Regions from separate parts of the Homo sapiens genome. Here region 2 is linked to region 1. The links come from fine-mapping of genetic effects on gene expression. A gene starts in region 1. The other region holds a variant in brackets. All regions are shown on one strand. Distances are from middle to middle.

The links. PIP is the estimated chance that this variant, and not a neighbour inherited with it, causes the effect.
Region 2: its variant is fine-mapped to the expression of SHD in whole blood (TOPMed, PIP above 0.99).

Annotation. Positions count from the first base shown.
Region 1 is chr19:4,275,651-4,283,650 of GRCh38, reverse strand. It overlaps SHD (Src homology 2 domain containing transforming protein D), which reads right to left and starts at 4,385. Exons shown (of 6, transcript NM_020209.4): 1 at 3,291-4,385; 2 at 676-781; 3 at 409-597. The coding sequence starts at 3,587.
Region 2 is chr19:4,234,279-4,250,429 of GRCh38, reverse strand. It overlaps EBI3 (Epstein-Barr virus induced 3), which reads right to left. Exons shown (of 5, transcript NM_005755.3): 4 at 15,606-15,763; 5 at 12,902-13,494. The coding sequence ends at 13,342. It overlaps YJU2 (YJU2 splicing factor homolog), which reads right to left and starts at 3,350. Exons shown (of 8, transcript NM_018074.6): 1 at 3,260-3,350; 2 at 1,102-1,202. The coding sequence starts at 3,283. RefSeq lists enhancers at 3,191-3,280, 3,621-3,760, 3,519-4,290, 7,654-7,753, 7,904-7,953 and a silencer at 8,132-8,332. The variant C/T (reference allele first, on the strand shown) is at 11,571.

The DNA.
Region 1 (8,000 bases):
GCCGAGATCACGCCACTGCACTCCAGCCTGGGCGACAGAGTGAGACTCCGCCTGGAAGAAAAACGAAAGAAAAATAAAATAAAATAAAATAAAATAAAGAAATGCTGCCCCTGCCACCCCCACATCCTATTCTAAAAGCAAGCCATATTCCTCTCCCCACACCACACTGAGCAGGATAAGTAGGTTCCATTCCACTCTAAAAAGTGTTTGCGTTTCCAAGGAAGATGCAGGTTGTCTTGGAAGAAAGAATTTAGGACTATCAGTCATTCACACTCTAGTGAGAATTAACAAACTACAAAAGTGACAAGTAATTGGACTCTACTTTGTAAACTGAAACAGGAGACATGACCAGATGAGGAAATGCAGGGATGGGGCATTCAGATGTCAGAGTGTGGGTCTGAGAAGCACCTGCAAACGCCCTGGAGATGTGGTCTTTCTTCCACTCCCAGGGCTGATCATACTCATCTGCTGGCCGTTCATCTTCCTGGGGCATCCGGCTCTGCCGAGGCTTCTGCCCAGAAGGGGGTCCATCTGCTGTCTCTGGGTCCTGTTCCTCATAAGGGGTGTCATAGAGCTGCACCCCTCTGCCGGGAAGTTCTAGGAGGCCAGGGACACTGTTCAGCTCCTGCTCCCATCTGGGACCCTGTCACCTTCCCCCAAGCCGTGCCTACTCACCACTCATGACCCATTGGGCATCGTAGGGCTCCATGTACCCATCATCCGGGGGTGCAGGATGAGGCTGAGCATCAAAGGGGTCTAAATACTCAGTGTCGGCTTCCAGCTGCGGAGAGAAGGAAGGGGAGAAGACAAGGACTCAGAGGGGCTTCCCTGCTAATTGACGCTGCACCTCTTGCCTGCCCACAGGGCCATCTGACACCTCTCCAAGAGTTTTTATTTTTTTATTATTTATTTATTTATTTTTATTTTTATTTTTTGAGATGGAGTCTCGCTCTGTCACCCAGGCTGGAGTGCAGTGGCGGGATCTGGGCTCACTGCAAGCTCTGCCTCCTGGGTTCACGTCATTCTCCTGCCTCAGCCTCCCGAGTAGCTGGGACTACAGGCGCCCGCCACCATGCCTGGCTAACTTTTTGTAGAGATGGGGTTTCACCGTGTTAGCCGGGATGGTCTCGATCTCCTGACCTCGTGATCTGCCCGCCTCGGGCTCCCAACGTGCTGGGATTACAGGCGTGAGCAACCGCGCCCAGCTGAGTTTTATTTATTTATTTATTTTGAGATGGAGTCTTGCTCCGTTGCCCAGGCTACAGTGCAGTGGTGTGATCTCGGCTCACTGCAACCTCCGACTCCCGGGATCAAGCAATTCTCCTGCCTCAGTCTCTGGAGTAGCTGGAATTACTGGTGCCGGCCACCAAACCTGGCTAATTTTTGCATTTTTAGTAGAGACAGGGTTTCACCATGTTGGCCAGGCTGGTCTTCAACTCCTGACCTCAGATGATCCGCCCGCTTCAGCCTCTCAAAGTGCTGGGATTACAGGCATGAGCCACAGTGCCTGGCCTCTCCAAGAGTTCTTTTTGGGGGTTGGAGAGGGAGTCTGTTACCCAAAAGTGCTCGCAGACAGCGGCTGGCTTCCCACGTCTCCCTCTGTCTTGATCCCATTTCCCCAGCACAGACACCTGCCTCCCTCCTTCGCCCACTTCAGTGCTTCTCCGTGCACTATTGTCAAGGATTTACCTGTGTTGATTTGTAATACCAACATGTAATAAGTACACCATTCCCCTTTTCCAGACAAGGAAGCCAAGGCACAGAGACAGTAAGTGTTTTGCTTAGGGACACACAGCTGGTAAGTAAGAGGCCGAGTCTGATCCCGGCTGACTGGTTTCCTCGAGTCCCTGGCTCTTCTTACCAACGTCTTACTTCTTATTTATTTATTTATTGAGACAGAGTCTCGCTCTTGTCACCCAGGCTGGAGTGCAGTGGCGCGATGTTGGCTCACTGCAACCTCCACCTCCTGGGTTCAAGCAATTCTCCTGCCTCAGCCTCAGGAGTAGCTGGGATTATAGGCGCACGCCACATCGCCTGGTTAATTTTTGCATTTTTGGTAGAGATGGGGTTTCACTGTGTTGGCCAGGCTGGTCTGGAACTCCTGACCTCAGGTGATCCACCTGCCTTGGCCTCCCAAAGTGCTGGGATTACAGGTGTGAACCACCACACCCAGCCTTTTTTTTTTTTTTTTTTTTTTTTTTTGAGACAGGGTGTTGCTCTGTCACCCAGGTTGGAGTGCAGTGGCGCAATCATGACTCACTGCAGCTTTGACCTTCTAGGCTCAAGTGATCCTCCTGCCTCAGCCTCCTGAGTAGCTGGGACTATGGTGTGCACCACCACAACTAGCTAATGTTTTGATTTTTTTTTTGTAGAGACAAGGTCTCACTCTGTTAGCCCGGGCTGGTCTCGAACTCCTGGGCTCAAGCAATCCTCCCACCTCGACCTCCCAAAGTGCTGGAATTACAGGCATGAGCTACTGCACCCGGTGGCCTGGGTTCAAATCCTAGTAAGCTAGAACCCCGTGAGACCTTAGCCAAGTCACTACCGTTCTGCGAGCCTCAGTTTCGCTTCTGTAAAACGGGAACATAGTGGTAGGAAGGGCAGCATCACCGGGAGGATATTTAGGTGCCCAGCAGGGGAGCAACTCACTCAGATCTATTTTAGGAAGATCCCACCAGGTTCCAAGAGGAAGGGGTGCTGAGGGGAGGGGGCTGGGGGACTGCAGGGGATGACCATGGAGGAGGAGGAGGACCCGGAGACCAAGCAGGGTGGTCAGAGAGGCAGAAGGACAACCAGCATTATGCATTGAAAAGGGACAGATATCCACCGGGCGCAGTGACTCACACCTGTAATCCCAGCACTTCGGGAGGCAGAGGCGGGAGGATCACCTGAGGTCAGGAGTTTGAGTCCAGCCTGGCTAACATGGTGAAACCAGTCTCTACTGAAAATACAAAAATTAGCCGGGTGTGGTGGCACACACCTGTAATCTCAGCTACTGGAGAGGCTGAGGCAGGAGAATCGCTTGAACCCCAGGAGGTGGAGGTTGCAATGAGCCGAGATCCCACCACTGCACTCCAGCCTGGGTGACAGGGGGAGACTGTCTCAAAATAAATAAATACATAAAAAGAACAGACTTCCCCAAGCAGGTGGAGGTCTGGAGGACTGGGAAGGGTCTGTCTGGTGCCCCAGTCCCCTCCTGTGATCACACATAAAATAAGCTCTCCACGATCCAGAGAGCCCATCCTGAGCCTCCCCTCCACCCAGTCTCCCCAGGCCACCCAGCCACGCACCTCCTCCCCGGGGCCGCCCAGAAGGGCCTTGGCTCTGGCCATATCCGCAGCCTCCACCTTGATGAGCCGGTGCTTGGGAGAACCATACTTGGCATCTCCGGGGTTCTTGGAGTCCCCAGGGCCCGCGGGGTCCGGCTCCAAGCGGCTCTCCGCGTCCTCATAGGGGTCCTCGAAGTCCAGGTTCTTCTGCGCGCGGTAGGCCCTCAGGATGTCGCTCTCGGTGTAGTCCGGGGTGGGCGGCTGCGGAGGGGGCCTCCGACCCCCAAAGCTCAGGTAGTCCCGTAGCCACTTGGCCATTTGGGCGCCTGTCACCCCAATCGGGCCACTGTCAGAGGGGCCCCCACATGCCCTTCTCCGGGCCCCTTTCCCCAAGGAGGAGGAGGAGGTGGAGAGGAAGGGAAGAGCAGGGAAGGATGAGAAAGATCAGGTGCGCCCTTTGGCGGGGCTCTGGATGGATAGAGGGAAGGAAAAGGTGAACGAGGGGGAGGAAAAGGAGGCGACAGAGGAGGGAGGAAGAGAAGCCCGCCTTAGCCCAGCTTGGGAAGCACCGCGGGGGAAGGGGGGACCTCGCAGGGCCCCGAACCCCGCGCGCTGGGGGCTAGGGCGAGGGGCATCCGCGGAGGCGCGCGGAGTTTCCGCGGGCAGCGCGGTTCCCTGGAGCGACACGGCCGCCCGCCGCCTCCAGGAAGCTCCGGGATCCCTTCCTGGGGTCGGGAGATCCGGGCCAGCGCCACCTGCGGACGCTCCCGGCCCCTCTCCCAGCCCGGACGCCTGGGTTCTCAGCGCAGCGGGCGGGCTCCCCAGGGGCGCGGGCGCCGCGCGCAAAGTTGGGCCGCGGAGACTGTGACCCCGGCGGGACGCATCCTTTGTCGCGCTCCTCTCGGCTCAGCGGGGAGCCCCCAGTCCCGCGGCCCCCGCCGCCTCGATCCGGCCCCAGCCACCCGCACAAAGGGAAATAAAAACCTCCTCCAATCCCCCTTCACGCTTTCGGAGAGACTTTCCCCGCCGCCGCCGGGAGGTGGGACGCTGGGGAGGGGGGCGCGCAGGAGGACGCCCCTGTTCCCACCAGCCCCGGGCCGCGTCCCGGGCAGCAGCGTCAAGGCTCCCCCACCTCCCCTCCGCCGCGTCCCCCGCCCCTCCCCTCCCCCTGCGCTCCCCTCGGAGGTGACTGAGACCTTCAGCTGTTCTGGGGAGGGAGGGAGCCGCTGCCCGCGGAGGGAAGGGGGGCTGGGGGCGGGAGTCGCCGGGGCCGAGGCCGCGGCAGCTGGACACTGACCGGGACGCCCGAGACTGGCCGCAGCGAGCGCGGAGCGCGGGAGGTGGGGAGCAGCTGGGAGTGACACTGCTGGGGAGGGGAGGGGAGAGGGAGAAGGAGGGGAGGGGGAAATTGCCCGGGAAATGGGGGACTGCACTTGACCGCCAAAAGGGGTGAAATTGACCAGCAGAGGGGGTGGGAATGACCGCCAGTGAGGGTCGAAATGGAACCGATGTCTGGCGGTGAAACGGACCGGGAGAGTGGGGATGTGCAAATTGGTGGAGAGGTCACTGGCTGAAATTGATATTGGAGCAGCAGAAGGAAGAGGGGGGCAAAGGAAGGGTGGGTGCGGATCGGGCTTCCCCTCCCCCAAGAGGGCTCTGCTCTGTGCCCCGCTCCCGCCCCAGAGGACTAATTGCGGGCAGGGGGAGGGTTGGGGGCAGCTGGCTTGGGGAAGGGAGATGGTATCTGTGCCTGGCGCCTGTCCTCTGCATCTGTCCTTTTGTGGCTTCTGGGGGCGGGGTGGGGGGGAGCGGTGGCGGGAAGAGGGGCAGAAGTGAGAGGGGTCTGGCCTGAACTGGCTGCCTGTTGTCAGCTGTCGTTGTCTGAGGGTGAGGGCACTGAGAGGTTTGGGGGGTGGGAGAGGAAAAGGGAGCCACTGGCCAATTTTCCAGTGCAGAACCGTTTTTTTTCTTTCCCCATAAGGGGGCTTGCCCAGTTCCTCCTAATGAGGGGAGTGAGAGAGGGGTGGTCAGGAAGGATGGGACCCCAGATTCTCTCCTCTTGTGGCCAGCCCCCTGGTCAGGCACAGGTCATAGCTTGGAGAGCACAGTTGGAGGACAAGACAGAAGTCAGAACCAACACTGCTATGACTGGGGCCTCCTGGCAGCCCGGCGGGGCTGAGGGCAGGGTCTGTCACTCCCTGAGTCTTGGTTTTCCTTATTTGAAAGATGTGGTTTCTAACAGGAAATCCCAGACAGCTCTAGGAAGGATTCCAGGAGGGACCGAGCTATCACCTGGCTTCCTCATTTTATGGATGGGGAAACCGAGGCACAGAGATGGGAGGGACTTGTTCAGAGCCACTCCACAGCTGATTCTGCCTGCACATCGCCGTGGGGCCTGGCCTAGGGTGGCACTGGAGTCTCTCTTTTTATTTTTTTGAGACGGAGCCTTGCTCTGTCCTCCAGGCTGGAGTGCCGTGTTGCGATCTCAGCTCACTGAAACCTCCACCTCCCAGGTCCAACCAATTCTCCTGCCTCAGCCTCCTGAGTAGCTGGGATTACTGCCACCACGCCCAGCTAATTTTTATATAATTTTATATTTTTAGTAGAGATGGGGTTTCACCACATTGGCCAGGCTGGTCTGGAACTCCTGACCTCAGGTGATCTGCCGGCCTCGGCCTCCCAAAATGCTCTTCATGGAATCGGTTCTGCAACTCCTCTCCACGATGAGCTCCATTATCCAGATGGGAAAACTGAGGCCTGGAGCCAACAAGGCAAAGCCCCTGAAGGATGCAGGCGTCTAGACCCTTCTGTTCCTCCCCTTCCCTGCACTGGCTGTGTCCCCCAACACAGACCTGTTGAACTCCTTCCTCCCTCCTGAAGTGCATGGCCACCCCCGCTTCCCCCCACCCTTTCAGATCAGCGACAAGGCTGCGTCCCTGGGGGCGGCCAGGGAGCACAGCGGGTAATTGTCCTGCTTTCTGTCAGCCGCAAGGCAATTCCGGGCCACGGGGATGAGCTGTTGACAGATCTCATCAAATCCAAGTCGTCTCCCTGCCGGATAAAACTAGATGTCTGAGGTATAAATATTTGAAAGGGGCCTTCTAATTACAATCTGTGTCAGGAATAGCAATTAGAGGCCCCGGGGCCGGAATCAAACGGCATTTGACTTTCCTGTGCTTTGGAGCTGGCTTCTCCTGGGGCTGCACCCCGACCCTACCCCAAGGAGGGGAGTGGGGAGAGGCTGGCAGGGAGAGGCAGGAGGATTAGGTAGAAGAGAAAGAGATCCAGGCTAGGGGTCCAGTCACCTTCCCCTGTGACCTTGAATCAGCCACGTAACCTTGTGAGATTTGGATTTTTCTTTTCTCCCTTTTTTTTTTTTTTTTGAGACAGGGTCTCTCGCTCTGTTGCCCAGGCTGGAGATGCAATCACAGCTCACTGCAGCCTCACATTCAACATCCTGGGCTCAAATGATCCTCCCATCTCAGCCTCCTGGTAGCTAGGACCACAGGTGCATACCACAAAACCCGGCTTTTTTTTTGCTTTTTTTTTTTTCTTACGCAGAGTCTCACTTTGTTGCCCGGGCCTGGAGTGCAGTGGTGCGATCTCGGCTCACTGCAAGCTCCGCCTCCCGGGTTCACACCATTCTCCTGCCTCAGCCTCCCGAGTAGCTGGGACTACAGGCACCCGCCACCATGCCCGGCTACTTTTTTGTATTTTTAGTAGAGATGGGGTTTCACTGTTAGCCAGGATGGTCTCGATCTCCTGACCTTGTGATCCTCCCGCCTCAGCCTCCCAAAGTGCTGGGATTACAGGCGTGAGCCACCGAGTCCGGCCGCTTTTTTTTTTTGAGGCCGAGTCTTGCTCTGTCGCCCAGGCTAAAGTGCAGTGGCACAATTTCGGCTCACCGCAAGCTCCGCCTCCCAGGTTCAAGCGATTCTCCTGCCGCAGCCTCCCAAGTAACTGGGATTACAGACGCCCGCCACCACACCCAGCTAATTTTTATATTTTTAGTAGAGATGGTGTTCCACCATGTTGGCCAGGGTGCTCTCAAACTCCTGACCTCGTGATCCGCCCACCTTGGCGCCCCCAAAGTGCTGAGATTACAGGAGTGAGCTGCCATACACGGCCTTGTTGCTTTTTTTTTTTTTAAAGATACAATTCACATTGGCTGGGTGCAGTGACTCACACCTATAATCCCAGCACTTTGGGAGGCTGAGGTGGGCAGATGACCTGAGGTCAGGAGCTCGAGACCAGCCTGGCCAACATGGTAAAACCCCGTCTCTACTAAAAATACAAAAATTAGCCAGGCGTGGTGGCGGGCACCTGTAATCCCAGCTACTCGGGAGGCTGAGGCAGGAGAATCACCTGAACTCGGGAGGCAGAGGTTGCAGTGAGCCAAGATTGAGCCACTGCACTCCAGCCTGGGCAACAGAGCGAGACTCCATCTCAAAAAAACAAAAAACATAACTTACATATCCTACAGTTCACCCATTTAGAGTGTACAATTCAGTGGTTTCTCCTGTGTCCACAAGGTTGTGCGACCATCACCCCTAATTCCTGAACATTTTCGTCACCTCCAAAAGAAACCTCATACCCAATTAGCTGTCACTCCCCATCTCTCCAAATCCCCAGCTCCTGGTAAACACAAATCCACTTCCTGCCTCTGTGGATGGGCCTGTCCTGGACATTTCATAGAAATGGGATCACACACTTTGTGGCCTTCTGTGTCTG
Region 2 (16,151 bases), 37 kb after region 1:
CCGTGCACCTGCCTGACTACCACTATTCTCCACTTCCCATTAGACTGTGGGCTCCATGAGGCCAGGGACTTTGTTCCTGGCGCTCGGCACAGACCCTGGCACACAGCAGGTGCCCAATAAATGAGTGTTGAATGAATAAATGAATGAATGAGGGGGAGGAGTAGACAGGCCAACAACACATGGGCATGAACCGAATTTCACTGACCCAGATGTCTCTTTCCTCGTTAGGTGCGTGATTTCAGATATGCTAGAGCATGAAAAGGTATGGGGTTGAGAGTTGGTGAAATACAGTAATTCTGAAGTGCTACAAAAGGCAAGATCTGGGCACCGTGAGGGGATGATGGAGGCCTCCCGGAGGGGTGAGATTGGAGCCATGACCTATGGCAGACAAGAGGAGCCTGCCATGTGTAAGTAGAAGGAGAAGGCCAGGTGCGGCAGCTCACGCCTGCAATCCCAGCACTTTGGGAGGCCAAGGAGGGCAGATCACCTGAGGTCAGGAGTTCGAGACCAGCTTGGCCAACATGGTAAAACACCAACTCTACTGAAAATACAAAAATTAGCCGGGCGTGGTGGTGCACGCCTGTAATCCCAGCTACTTGGGAGGCTGAGGCAGGAGAATCGCTTGAAGCCAGGAGGTGGAGGTTGCAGTGAGCTGAGATCACGCCACTGCACTCCAGCCTGGGCAACACGGCAAGACTCTGTCTCAACAAAAAAAAAAAAAGAAAGAAAGAAAGTAGAGGGAGAGAGTTCCAAGCAGGGGCAGCAGTGTGTGCAAAGGCCCTGGGGTAGGAACGAGCTTGGCTGTTGGAGGAGCTGAAATATATCTATGGGGCTGCATCTCTGTGGCGTCCTATCCTCTCTGCACACACGTTTACTAACCACCATGATCTCAAGGCAGGCACTGGCTGGAGGGCTCTAAAAGATCCAAAGCTTAATCCCAAGTGGTGAGGCGAAGGAGGGTTGGAATGGTCAATGTCTGAGCCAGGACAATGTCTAAGACCAGTGATCTGGTCTTAACACCGGACGAGTCACCTCTGTGGATGCCAGGCACTGCGTCCTTCAGCCATGACTGGTGTGTGGGGTCACGCAGGGGGTGCTCACCTCATGTTGAAGGGGGCCATCAGCCGCACCACGTACTGCCGGTCTTTGGGGAGCTTGAGTTTGGGGATCTTTGATGGGTCAAAGTCCGGCGGGTAGTATTTCTGCAGGGGAGGAAGGAAACGTTGGGGGAGTTATTTTCAGAAGCAGGGGCAGGACATGGCAGAGGGAAGGGGCTCTGGGGAGCTGTGTCGGGGGTCCCCAAGCCCACCCCAGGTTCCGCGACAGGCAGGGAGGACTCGCAGGACTCAGTACAGTCAGAGGGAGGCCAGGCACAAGCTTCCTGACTCTCTCCTAGTGGAGTTATACAGGACGCATTTAATTCTCCTAAATACCAGTCATGACAATACACATGAAATGCTGTCTACACGGGAAGCTCTAAAAAGCCAGGGTTTGTTTTTGTTTTTGTTCTGAGACGGAGTTTTGCTCTTGTTGCCCAGGCTGGAGTCCAGTGGCGCGATCTTGGCTCACTGCAACCTCCGCCTCCTGGGTTCAAGCGATTCTCCTGCCTCAGCCTCTACAGTAGCTGGGATTACAGGCGCCCACCACCACTCCCCGCTAATTTTTGTATTTTTAGTAGAGATGGGGTTTCACCATGTTGGCCAGGCTAGTCTCGAACTCCTGACCTCAGGTGATCCACCTGCCTTGGCCTCCCAAAGAGCTGGTATTACACACGTGAGCCATCATGCCCTGCCCTTTGTAGAGGTTAAGCTTTGCTTAGCACTTCTGTTGTTCAGGCAGGAGACCGAGTTCCCCGAGGAGTCCCAACTCCCCAGCAATTCTGTAGAGGGTAAACCAGGACTCTGTTAGCTCAGCCTCCCAATCACGATACTACATCCGTTTCCTACAGAGTCATCTCCCTGGATCTGAATCCTGAGGAGCTGAAACCTGCAGGGCTCAGTTTACTCCTCTGTGAAATGCGCACACTGTCCTCTGTCTCCAAGAGTCTTTGCACGCATTCCTTGAGGCAAGGGGGATAAAGTGCTCTTTGCAGTGTCTGGCACCCAGTAGGTGCTCCAAACACAAAGTGCTTTATTTTCCAGTGGTGCAGTGGAGGTATCTGTCATAATCCATACTCACACTCCCTTTGTATCCCAGGGCTCCTGTTTCCCAGGAGTTCCTACAGCAAGCCTGAGACTGCTCTCCTAGAAAGACCTGCGTGGGGCCGGGCGCGGTGGCTCACGCCTGTAATTCCAGCACTTTGGGAGTATGAGGTGGGTGGAATGCCTGAGATCAAGAGTTCAAAACCACCCTGGGCAACATGGTGAAATCTCATCTCTACTAAAATACAAAAAAAATTAACCAGGCATGGTGGCGGGCGCCTGCAGTCCCAGCTACTCAGGAGGCTGAGGCAGGAGAATCGCTTGAACCCAGGAGGCAGAAGCTGCAGTGAGCCAAGAACGTGCCACTGCACTCCAGCCTGGGAAGCAAGCGCAAAACTCCATCTCAAAAAACCAAAAAACAGAAGTGTGCCAACAGTATAGTTTATACTGAACCTCTGCTTTTCTTCTGGGAGTCTGGAATCTTGGCCACTGTCAGGCAGAGGTTATCTGCATGACCAGACCCCAGTAAAATCTTGGCCACTGTAAGGCAGAGGTTATCTGCATGACCAGACCCCAGTAAAAAAAACAAAACACACACACACACACACACACACACACACACACACACACACACACACACACACACACACACACACACACACACACACACACACACACACACACACACACACACACACACACACACGCGCCACCCCACCCCACCCCACCCAAAGTACACGATTGGTTACAGTCCCCAAGTGGGGCGGGGCTTCTCAGAGCCACGCCCCTCAAGAAGAGGGCAAAACACGGCCGCCAGCATTTAAGGAAGCCCCGCCCCCAGAAAAAAAACCCTATCTGGTGGTGATTGGGTAAAAGCCCAAGCCACGCCCCGCAGGTGACTAACTACACCCCAGCCCAGAAGGGAGACTTAGCGAAGGCCCACCCCCCCGACGGAAGGCGATGGGGAGGAGTCTAGGGAGGAGTCTGGGAAGCCCCATCTCGCGGAAGGCCGCTGGGAAAGAAGGGTTCCAAAGAAGAGATCTCAGGAAGCTCCTCCCTCTCCCGGAGTTCCGGGATGTCCTGCTCCGATTGAAAAGCCCCAGTCGCCCAACACTTACGTTTAATACTTTTCGCTCCGACATCTTTGCCTTCTGATCACCTCGCAAGCACCTGAGAAATGGTTAGGCTGGGTAATTATCGAGCTTTTCCGACGGAAGCCTTACTTCCGCAAACGTCACTTCCTTCGGCCGCTATTATTGGCTGCAGCATACACAGCAGACCTCTTTCATTGGTTCCAATCCCCGCCTATCAAGCTGGAAGTCCCAGCGTCTTCCCTCCGGAGTTGCAACCTGAGTAGCGCGAAATAAGGATTCCGGGAGCCATGTGGAATTGGAGAATTTTGTATAGTGCGCTGCGCCCCCTAGAAGCGGGCAGCGGCTCGTTAAAATTTTGTAACGTGACCTCTTGTTCTTCATTCTTTTATTCAGCAAATATGTATTATGCGCCTGCCTTGTATTCTGGGCTCTGGGAATCCACACATCGTTCCTGGGCCCGCAACTCTCACATGGGGTTGGGGCCACACATAGGGTGACTTAAGAGGACCCTGGACGACTCTTGAGTCACAGACATTGACTTAAAGATCAGGCTCCAAACCAACTTCCTAAACATACGCAGTGTCTCCCAAATGTCCCTCCATTGCCCACCTGTGCCTTCCCCTTAACGAGGACTTCCCATCCCATTCCTTCCCCAGCCTCCTTCCCCAGCCTCCTCCCCACCTTTCATGGACGTTTCCTCTGTGTCAGATTGTTCCAGGAAAGGGGTCCGGATCCAGACCCCAGGAGAGGGTTCTTGGATCTCGTGCAAGAAGGAATTCAGGGCGAGTCCACAGTGCAAAGCAAAAACAAGTTTATTTAGAAAGTAGATGAATAAAAGAATGGCTACTTCACAGACAAAGCAGCCCCAAGGGCTGGTGGTTGCCCATGTTTATGGTGATTTATTGATGATATGCTAAACAAGGGGTGGATTATTCATACCTCCCTTTTTTAGACCATATAGGGTAACTTCTTGATGTTGCTGTGGCAATTGTTTGTTTATTTATTTATCTTTTGAGGAGTCTTGCTCTGTTGCCCAGGCTGACGGGCAGTGGTGCGATCTTGGCTCACTGCAACCTCTGCCTCCAGTGGTGCGATCTTGGCTCACTGCAACCTCCACCTCAGGATTCAAGTGATTCTCCTGTCTCAACCTCCCGAGTAGCTGGGATTACAGGCACGCACCACCACACCTGCCTAATTTTTGTAGTTTTAGTAGAGATGGGGTTTCACCATTTTGGCCAGGCAGGTCTCGAACTCCTGACCTCAGGTGATCTGCTCGCCTCTGCCTCCCAAAGTGCTGGGATTACAGGCATGAGCCACTGCACCTGGCCAAAAATCAACTCCATCTTAAAATTAACAAGGCACATTCGCTGCCAGTCACGAGCCAGGGTCATAAGATGTTTACAATTGAGAAAACGTCTTACAAATGCCTAGGAGGACACACTACTACAACAATGGAAGGTCCAGATGTCCTGATATTGCATAGCAATGTATGCTTTTAAGATCGTTATAGTCGCCAGGCGCGGTGGCTCATGCCTGTAATCCCAGCACTTTGGGAGGCCAAGGAGGGTGGATCACCTGAGGTCAGGAGTTCGAGACCAGCCTGGTCACCATGGCCACCATGGTGGAACCCCATCTCTACTAAAAATACAAAAATTAGCCGGGCGTGGTGGCGGGAACCTGTAATCCCAGCTACTTGGGAGGCTGAGGCAGGAGAATTGCATGAACCCAGGAGGCTGAGGTTGCAGTGAACTGAGATCGAGATTGTGCCGCTGCCCTGTGGCCTGGGCGACAGAGTGAGACTCCATCTCAAAAAAAAAAAAAAAGAGAAAAAAAAGAAAAAGATACCGGGCATGGTGGCTTACGCCTGTAATCCCAGCACTTTGGGAGGCCGACGTGGGCGAATCACCTGAGGTCAGGAGTTCAAGACCAATCAGACCAACACGGAGAAACCCCGTCTCTACTAAAAATGCAAAATTAGCCAGGTGCGGTGGTGCAGGTCGAGAGTTCAAGACCAACCAGACCAACATGAAGAAATCTTGTCTCTACTAAAAATACAAAATTAGCCGGGCATGGTGGTGCATGCCTGTAATCCCAGCTGCTTGGGAGGCTGAGGCAGGAGAATCACTTGAACCTGGGAGGCAGAGGTTGCGGTGAGTCGATATGGCGCCATTGCACTCCAGCCTGGGTGACAAGAGTGAAACTCCATCTCAAAAAAAAAAAAAGAAAATATGGTTATAGTCATGGTGTAATGTACTTAGGCACTAAAATGGCAAGGATATGTATGTATACTTTTTGAGACAGGGTCTCGCTCTGTCACCTAGGCTGGAGTGCAGTAACGCAATCATGGCTCTCTGTGGCCTCCACTTCCCGGCTCAGGCGATCCCCCACCTCAGCCTTCCGAGTTAGCTGGAACTATAGGTACCACCACACCTGGCTAATATTTGGCAGTTTTTGTAGAGACAGGGTTTCGCCATGTTGCCCAAGCTGGTCTGGAAATCCTGGGCTGAAGTGATCTGCCGGCCTCGGCCTACCAAAGTGTTACAATTACAGGTGTGAGCCACTGCACCCAGCCAGGATAACTTTCTTTAAGTCGACAAAGTACTACGTTTTGTCACGCGGTCAGCCCACCTACACGTGGACATAGCTTTCACACAGATAAGACCCCTATATAAGAAAAAACCGGTTGTACATGGTGGCTCACACCTGTAATCCCAACACTTTGGGAGGCCGAGGTGGGAGGATCACTTGAGCTCAGGAGTTCAAGGCCAGCCTGGCCAACACGGTAAAACCTCGTCTCTACTAAAAATATAAAAATTAGCTGGGCGCAGTGGTACATGCCTGAATCCCAACTACTCAGGAGACTGAAGCAGGAGAATCGCTTGAACCTGGCAGGTGGAGGTTGCAGTGAGCCAAGATCGTGCCAAGATCGTGCCATTGTACCTGGGTGACAGAGCAAGACTCCATCTCAAAAATAAATCAATAAATAAAATAAAAATAAAAACCTTAAAACAAAGACAAGGCGTTCCTCCTCTTGTTTTCTGAGGACGCCCTACTTTGTAACTGAGTAGCCTTCCTTTTTTTTTTTTTTTTTTTTTTTTTTTGAGGAGTTTTGCTCTTGTTGCCCGGGCTGGAGTGCAATGGTACAATCTCGGCTCACCGCAACCTCCGTCTCCCAGGTTCAAGCTATTCTCCTACCTCAGCCTCCCAAGTAGCTGGGATTAAAAGCATGTGCCACCACGTCCGGCTAATTTTGTATTTTTAGTAGAGACGGGGTTTCTCCATGTTGGTCAGGCTGGTCTTGAACTCCTGAGGTGTTCAAGAGGTGATCCACCCACCTCAGCCTCCCAAAGTGCTGGGATTACAGGTGTGAGCCACCACACCCAGCTAGGGACCCCTTTTCCTGGCACCAGGAAGACAATAATATGGGACAAGGAATGGTGTTAAATAAAGTTTACAGGAAGCCATGGGTTTGGACTGAGCTCCTGCACTAGGCCCAAAAGACTAAACCAAAATGAAGTCCCTCATGCGGAAGTTTTACACCAAGCTGAAACTAAGTTGTTTTTCTGGTTTTCCAAGAAATCGAGAACTGGAAGGAAGTGGGGAGAGAGAGAGAGAGAGGGAGAGAGAGAAAGAGAGGGAATAGTCAAATCCATGAACAGAGGCAGGCAGATCACCTGAGCTCGGGAGTTCAAGACCAGCCTGGCCAACATGGCGAAACCCCGTTTCCACTAAAATACAAAAAATTAGCGGGGTGCGGTGGTGGGTGCCTGTAATCCCAGCTACTTGGGAGGCTGACTCACGAGAATTGCTTGAACCTGGGAGGCGGAGATTGCAGTGAGCCCAGATCATGCCACTGCACTCCAGCCTAGGCAACAGAACCAGATTCTGTCTCAAAAAAAAAAAAAAAAAGGCCAGGCACTGTGGCTCATGCCTGTAATCCCTGCACTTTGGGAGGCGGGTGGATAACGAGGTCAGGAGATTGAGACCATCCTGGCCAACATGGTGAAACCCTGTCTCTACTAAAAATACAAAGATTAGCTGGGCAGGGTGGCACACGCCTGTAGTCCCAGCTACTTGGGAGGCTGAGGCAGGAGAATCGCTTGAACCCGGGAGGTGGAGGCTGCAGTGAGCCAAGATTGTGCCACTACACTCCAGCCTGGGTGACAGAGCGAGACTGTCTCAAAAAAAAAAAAAAAAAAAAATCCCTGAACAGGCCTGTTTTAGCCAGCACGATAGTCTCCTTTGCTCTAAACTTGACAAGAAAAGTAACTTTGAAAAGACCAATCCACTTTTTGTTTTCTATTTCTGCTTTACTCAGCCTTTTTCTGTCTATAAAACCAACCTCTTTTTCAGTGAGCTGAGATCACCACTGCACTCCAGCCTGGGCAACAAGAGTGAAACTCCGTCTCAAAATAAATAAATAAAACCTGCTTTGCAAAAGTGGAAGGTTTGGCCGGGCATGGTGCCTCATTCCTGTAATCCCAGCACTTTGGGAGGCTGAGGCGGGTTGATCATGAGGTCAGGAGTTCAAGACCAGCCTGGCCAACATGGGGAAACCCCATCTCTACTAAAAATACAAAAATTAGCCGGGTGTGATGATGGGCACCTGTAGTCCCAGCTACTTGGGAGGCAGAGGCAAGAGAATCATTTGAATCCAGGAGGCGGAGGTTACAGTCAGCCAAGACCACGCCACTGCCCCCCAGCCTGGGTGACAGAGAGAGACTCTGTCTCGGGAAAAAAAAAAAATGGAAGGTTTAACAGACTTTAAAAAAGAAAGAAAAAGAACCCCTAATGTTGTCTGCTCAGCTCATGGAAACATTCTGAAACTGGTCCAATTGTTCCATAAAACGAATACTTATGATTATTTGAATAAACACAGAAATGGATCCTCCCTAGTCTTAAAACTTGAAACTTACATTTGTCTCATCTCAGTTCCTTCCTCAGGAAACTGACCATCAGGCAAGGAACTGAAACTCATCAGATCATCACATCCAGACAATGAGAGGCCAGACCCCATCATCCATCAAGATTACTTCCTTAACACCCTCCCTGAATTTGTTTTCTCCCATTCCCCAGCTATATAAACTCCCCAATTTTAGTTGGTCAGGGAGACATATGAGACTTTACCACCCCTTCTCATTGACTGCAGCGGCAGGATAAAGCATTCCTCCCTGGCAATCCTTGTTGCCTCGGTGATTGGCTTTCTGCGCAGAGGGCAGCAAGACCTAGACCAAACACCTGGTGTTTTAGTAGCTAATTCGATTTGATGAAATGAGGTGTTGCCTGATTCCAGAATTGCAAAGAAAACCCAATTCAGATCTCTGAACTATATAGGTTGCAGCATTTTTGTTTTGTTTTGTTTTGAGATGCAGTCTTACTGTGTTGCTCAGGCTAGAGTGCAGTGACGCGATCTCAGCTCACCACAGCCTCCACCTCCCGAGTTCAAGTGACTCTCCTGCCTCAGCCTCCCAAGTCACTGGGGCCACAGGCGTGTGCCACGCCCAGCTAATTTTTGTATTTTTAGTAGAGACGGGGTTTCACCATGTTGGCCAGGCTGGTCTGGAACTCCTGAGCTCAAGTGATTCACCTGCCTCAGCTTCTCAAAGTGCTGGGATTACAGGCATGAGCCTCTGCACCTGGCCAAGGTTGCAGCTTTATCTTTTGACCATGGATAGTGATGGAAAGGGTCAATTGTAGGTGATGCTTGAGGGGCCTATGGCTGTTGTAACAATTGACCACCAACTCAGTGTCTGAAAACAACATGCATTTGTTTTATTTATTTATATTTTTTTCTGAGACACGTCTTGCTTTTTCACCTAGGGTGGAGTGCGGTTCTATGATCATAGTCACTGCAGCCTCAAGCTCCCAGACTCAGAGATCCTCCCACCTCAGCCTCCCAAGTGGCTGGGACTAAAAGTGCATGCCACCATGCCCAGCTAAATTTTAAATTTTTTTTTGAGAGACAGGGTCTTGATATGTTGCCATGGCTGGTCTAGTACTCCTGGGGTCAAGTGATCCTCCCACCTTAGCCTCCCAAAATGTTGGGATTATAGACATGAGCCACTGCCTCTGCCCGACACACATTTATTATAGTTTTACAGGTCAGAAATAAAAAATGGACTGAGCATGGTGGCTCATCAGCCCTGTAATTCCAGTACTTTGGGAGGCCAAGGTGAGAGGATTGCTTGAGACTAGGAGTTGGAATCTAGTCTGAGGAACATGGTGAGACCCCATCCCTATTAATCTTTTTTTTTTGAGACGGGGTCTCACTGTCTCACCCAGGCTGGAGTGCAGTGGCACAATCATAGCTTATTGAAGCCTCAACCTCCTGGGCTCAGGCAATCCTCCTGCCTCAGCCTCCAGAGTAGCTGGGACCACAGGCATGTACCACCATGCCTGCCTAACTTTTGTATTTTTTGTAGAGATGGGGTCTCACTATGTTGCCCAGGCTGGTCTCAAACTCCTGAGCTCAAGCAATTCAGCCGCCTCAGCCTCACAAAGTGCTGGGATTACAAGCGTAAGCCACTGTGCCTGGCATCTATTAAATTTTTTAGAAATACTTGTTTTTTCTTTTTTTTTTTTTGAGAAGGAGTCTCACTGTCTCCCAGGCTGGAGTGCAGTGGCACGATCTAAGGCTCACTGCAAGCTCCGCCTCCCAGGTTCACGCCATTCTCCTGCCTCAGCCTCCCAAGTAGCGGGCACTACAGGCGCCTGCCTCCATGCCCAGCTAATTTTTTTAATTGTATTTTTAGTAGAGACAGGGTTTCACCGTGTTCACCAGGATGGTCTTGATCTCCTGACCTCGTGATCTGCCCGCCTCAGCCTCCCAAAGTGCTGGATTACAGGCGTGAGCCACCGTGCCTGGCTTTTTTTTTTTTTTTTTTTTTGAAATGGAGTCTTTCTCTGTTACCCAGGCTGGAGTGCAGAGATGTGATCACAGCTCACTGTAGCCTCTTCCTCCTGGACTCAAGAGATTCTGCCACTTTGGCCTCCCAAGTAGCTGGAACTATAGCTGTGAGCCACCAAGCCCAGCTAATTTTTAATTTTTTTTTTTTTTGAGACGGAGTCTCGCTCTGTTGCCAGGCTGGGGTGCAGTGGTACGATCTCGGCTCACTGCAACCTCCCCCTCCCAGGTTCAAGCGATTCCCCTGCCTCAGCCTCCCGATTAGCTAGGACTACAGGCATATGCCACCATGTCTGGCTAATATTTTTTTGTATTTTAGTAGAGACAGGGTTTCACCATATTGGCCAGGCTGGTCTCGAACTCCTGACCTTGTGATCTGCCCACCTGGGCCTCCCAAAGTACTGGGATTACAGGCGTGAGCCACTGAGCCCGGCTAATTTTTTTTTTTTTGAGACAGGGTCTTGCTCTGTTGCCCAGGCTGGAGTACAGTGGTGAGATCATAGCTCACTGCAGCCTTGATCTCCTGGGCTCAAGAGATCCTCCCACCTCAGTCTCCTGATTAGCTGGGACTATGGGCACGCGACATCACACCTGGCTAACTTATTTTATTATTTTATTTTTATTTTATTTTATTTTATTACTATTTTTTTTTTTGAGACAGTCTCGCTCTGTTGCCCAGGCTGAAGTGCAGTGGTACGATCTCGGCTCACTGCAACCTCCGCCTCCCGGGTTCAAGTGATTCTTCTGCCTCAGCCTCCCGAGTAGCTGGAGCTACAGGTGTGTGCCACAACGCCTGGCTAACTTTTGCATTTTTTAGTGGAGACAGGGTTTCACCATATTGGTCAGGCTGGTCTCGAACTCCCCACCTCGTGATCCACCCACCTCGGCCTCTCAAAGTGCTGGAATTACAGGCATGAGCCACCATGCCTGGCCTATTTTATTTTTTTAGAGATGGGGGTCTCACTATGTTGCCCAGGTTGGTCTGGAGCTCTTGGCCTCAAGCAATTCTCCTGCCTTGGCCTCACAAAGTGTTGGGATTACAGGCGTGAGCCACTGCGCCCGGCCCATTTTCATTAATTTGATGAAAGATCTTTCATCTTTAAAGACCTTTGAGATTATTAATGTAATCACTCCTATAAAGTTCCTTTGGCTGCATCAGGCAAAATACTCATGAGCTCTGGAGATTGGGACATGGATGTCTTTGCGGGATTGGGGAGTGTTACTCTACCTGCCACAGATGGGGTAGTCAGGGAAGGCTTCTCGGAGGAGGTGACTTTTGACTGGAGACCCAGGTGGAACCCACAGACAAGCCCAAGGCTGTTTCTCTCTCCTTCAGGGCCTGGCTGCCTTCCTTGCCCACTGTTCAGTTAAATCTCCCCAGAGCCACTCATACCTTATTGGTGTCTATCCTCAATGAGGCTGACATCTGGG[C/T]GAACCAACCTAACTGCTAATCTGAATGGATTCTTAATGGATTCTTTTTTTTTTTTTTTTTTCCGAGATCGAGTCTCGCTCTGTCACCCAGGCTGGAATGCAGTGGCGCGATCTTGGCTCACTGCAACCTCCACCTCCTGGGTTCAAGCAATTCTTCTGCCTCAGCCTCCCGAGTAGCTGGGACTACAGGCGGATACCCACGCCTGGCTAATTTTTTGTATTATTATTTTTAGTAGAGATGGGGTTTCACCATCTTAGCCAGGCTGGTCTTGAACTCCTGACCTTGTGATCCACCCGCCTCAGCCTCTCAAAGTGCTGGGATTACAGACGTGAGCCACCGCACCTGCCCCTGAATGGATTCTACTGTCCCACTCCAGGCGGAATCCCTGCCACCCCACCCTGGCATCCCCAGGCCCATGACGTCCCCTGGTCCAGCCCTGACACTATGGGAGTGGGGATTTGTGGTTTCTGTGTCCTTTGGTTTAGGGCTAAGTCCTCGCTGGATCTCCTCTAAGTGAAAAGAGGAGTCTTCATTTCCTTATTTTTTTCAGACGGAGTCTTAGTCACCCCATCGCCCAGGCTGGAGTGCGATGGCGCGATCTCAGTTCACTGCAACCTCTGCCTCCCGGGTTCAAGCAATTCTCCTGCCTCAGCCTCCCGAGTAGCTGGAATTATAGGCACCCACCACCACGCCTGGCTAATTTTTGTATTTTCAGTCGAGACAGGGTTTCACCATGTTGGCCAGGCTGGTCTTGAACTCCTGACCTCAAGTGATCCACCTGCCTTGGCCTCCCAAAGTGCTGAGATTACAGGCGTGAGCCACCATACCCAGCTGGAGTCTTCATTTCAACTATTATTTTTTTTGTTTTTGTTTTGAGACGGAGTCTTGCTCTGTTGCCCAGGCTGGAGTGCAGTGGTGCAATCTCAGCTCACTGCAACCTCCGCCTCCCAGGTTCAAGCGATTCTCCTGCCTTAGCCTCCTGAGTAGCTGGGGTTACGGGCTCAGGCCACCATGCCCAGCTAATTTCTGTATTTTTAGTAGAGACCGGGTTTCACCATGTTGGTCAGGCTGGTCTCGAACTCCTGACCTCGTGATCTGCCCGCCTCGGCGTCGGGATTACAGGCGCGAGCCACCGCACCCGGCCTCAACTATGATTAAAACAAACAAACAAACAAACAAAAAAACCAGGGTCTTGCTCTGTTGCCCAGGCATGAAGGCAGTGGTGTGACGACAGCTCACTGCAGCCTTAACCTCCTGGACTCAAGTGATCCTCCCACCTCAGCCTCCCAAGTAGTTGGGACTGTGGGCGCGCAACATCACACCTGGCTAATTTATTTTATATTTATATTAATTTTTTAGAGATGGGGTCTTGCTGTGTGGCCCGGACTGGTTTCGAGCTCCTGGCCTCAAGCTACCCTCCCACGTCGGCTTCCCAGTGACTGGGATTACAGGTGCGATCCACTGCGCCCAGCCCAACAACAATTCTTTTCTAATTAAACAATAAAAAATATCTCACAGTGACAGTTCAGTCAGCCCTGCACTGTGGTAAAGGTAAAGGTAAAGGAGAGAGTAGTACATCTCCATTTCTCAGCTAGAGAAACTGAGGCTCAAAGGGAAAAGTCGGTCATCTGAGGTTGCCCGGCAGCTCAGCAGCAGCAAAGCAAGGACTCCAGCCCAGGCTAGGCAGATCCCATCCGCCCTCCAACAGGTGTCCCGGGGCTTAGGGTGGCGAGGACCCAGGTGCTGTCTGGAGGCAGCGGGAAGCCCTTGCTACTTGCCCAGGCTCATTGTGGCAGTGGCGGGGAGACTCCAGTCACTCAGTTCCCCGTAGTCTGTGAGGTCCTGAGCCGCCACTTGGACGTAGTACCTGGCTCGGGGCCGCACAGCCCTGAGGATGAAGGACGTGGCTTCAATGGGCCCCACCTGAGAGAAGAGAGAGCGTCAGGTCACTAGAACCAGAAGATGGAGAGGGGCCACTGTGCACAGAACCACACAACGGAGCGTGCAGTCCTCCCTGCCCCCTGCAGGCTCCAGTCCAGGACTCTGGCCCCAGCTGTGCGGCCCCACCCCAAATAGCATCATGGGCTCCTCCCAATCCCGGCCTCTGTCTGTGTGGCCCCCAGAGCCACCTCTCTTACGAATCCTTCCTGGACCACACTAGCCCCTGTGGATGTCTCACCCAGGAGGGTCTTTGTTCATCAGGACATCCCTGATCCCTATAATCCTCTTCTTTCTCCTCCCTGGGACTAAACCAGGACCTCTGGGATAGGACCCCATACCTCCCTTTACCCCTGGTCCCACTATATTAACCATGCTTTTTTTTTTTTTTTTTTTTTTTTTGAGACAGTCTTACTCTGTTGCCCAGGCTGGAGTGCAGTGGGGCAATCTTGGCTTACTGCAACCTCTGCCTCCAGGCTCAAACCATCCTCTCACGTCAGCCTCCCAGATAGCTGGGATTACAGGCGCCCGCCACCATGCCTGGCTAATTTTTGTTTGTTTGTTTTTGAGACGGAGTCTCACTCTGTCACCCAGGCTGGAGTGCAGTGGCATGATCTCAGCTCACTGCAACCTCCACCTCCCGGGTTCAAGCCATTCTCCTGCCTCAGCCTCCTGAGTAGCTGGGATTACAGGCGCCCGCCACCACACCCGGCTAATTTTTGTATTTTTAGTAGAGCTGTGATTTCACCATGTTGGTCAGGCTGTTCTCGAATTCCTGACCTCGTGATCTGCCTGCCTCAGCCTCCCAAAGTGCTGGGATTACAGGCATGAGCCACCGCGCCAGGCCAATTTTTGTATTTTTAATAGAGATGGGGTTTCACCTGACCTCAAGTGATCTGCCTGCCTTGGCCTCCTAAAGTGCTGGGATTTCAGGCATGAGCCACTGCACCTAGCCTAACCGTGCTTTTTATTTTATTTAATTTATTTAAGTTGGGAGACAGAGTCTCTCTCTGTTACCCAGGCTGGAAGGCAGTGGTGCCAACACGGCTCACTGCAGCCTCAATCTTCCAGGCCCAAGTGATCCTCCCACCTCAGCCTCTTGTAACTGGGGGTACAGGTGTGTGTCACCACACCCAACTAATGTTTAAATTTTTTGTAGAGATGGGAGTCTCACTATGTTACCCAGGCTGGTCTCCAACTCCTGGACTCAAGCAATCCTCCCAACTTGGCCTCTCAAAGTGCTGGGATTACAGGTGTGAGCCACCCTGCCCAGCCAGAATTGTTCACTTTAAAATGGCTAATTCTGGCCAGATGAAGTCCTCACACCTGTAGTCCCAACACTTTGGGAGGCCCAGGCAGGTGGATCACCTAAGCTCCGTAGTTTGAGACCAGCCTGGGCAACATGGCAAAATCCCATCTCTACTGAAAATACAGAAATTAGCCGGGCGTGGTGGGCGCCTGTAGTCCCAGCTATTCAGGAGGCTGAGGCAGGAGAATCACTTGAACCTGGGAGGCGGAGGTTTCAGCGAGCCAAGATCGCGCCACTGCACTCCAGCCTGGGTGACAGAGCTAGACCTTGTTTCAATCAATCAATCAATAAAGTGAACAATTCGGTGGCTCACGCCTGTAATCCCAGCACTTTGGGAGTCCGAGGCAGGCAGATCACCTGAGATCAGAAGTTCGAGACCAGCCTGGCCAACATGATGAAACCCCATCTCTACTAAAAATACAAAAATTAGCCGGGCATAGTGGCACGTGCCCGTAATCCCAGCTACTCCAGAGGCTGAGGCAGGAGCATCGCTTGAACCTGGGAGGCGGAGTTTGCAGTGAGCCGAGATTGTGTCACTGCCTGGGCGACAGAGCGAGACTCTGTCTCAAAACAATAACAACAAAAACGGGTGTGCGACAGCTTGTGCAAGTCCCTGCTTTCCATCCTTTTCGGTAGAGGCCTAGGAATCAGATTGCTGGACTGCTCTTATTCAATGCACCCGGAATCGCAAGCTATGTGCAAGAGCCCAGCACACCTGCTAGTCTTGGTAAAAACCATTCCCTCTGCCAGGCACCACCCTTTCCAGCCTCCCCCTCATCCTCCTCACCCGGTGGAAGCGCGCAGCTCCCTGACGCTTGTAACGGATCCAGTACTTCAGTGAGAAGATCTCTGGGAAGGGCCAGGACCCGGGAGGCTCCCACTGCACCTGTAGCTGGCGCTCAGCGAGGGGGCTTAGGCGCACGCCTTCTGGAGGGTCGGGCTTGACTGACGGACAAGCAGGAAGCAGGGTCAGGGGACAGTAAGTCCAGTCATTCATTCATTCACTCATTCATTCAACCAACATATTATGTATATATTTTGTTTGTTTTGAAACGGAGTCTCACTCTGTCACCCAGGCTGGAGTACAGCGGCGTGATCTCAGCTCACTACAACCTCTGCCTCCCAGGTTCAGGCGATTCTCCTGCCTCAGCCTCCCGAGTAGTTGTGAGCCACCATGCCTGGCTCAACCAACAAATATTTATTGAGAAACTGTGTGCCTGGGGCTGCCACAGAGGGGACAAAACAGTGACCTTAACTGACCTACCCCTGTCCTCATGGAACTCACAATCCATCAGGGGGAAGACAGGAAATAAACAAATCCATAGGTCACACA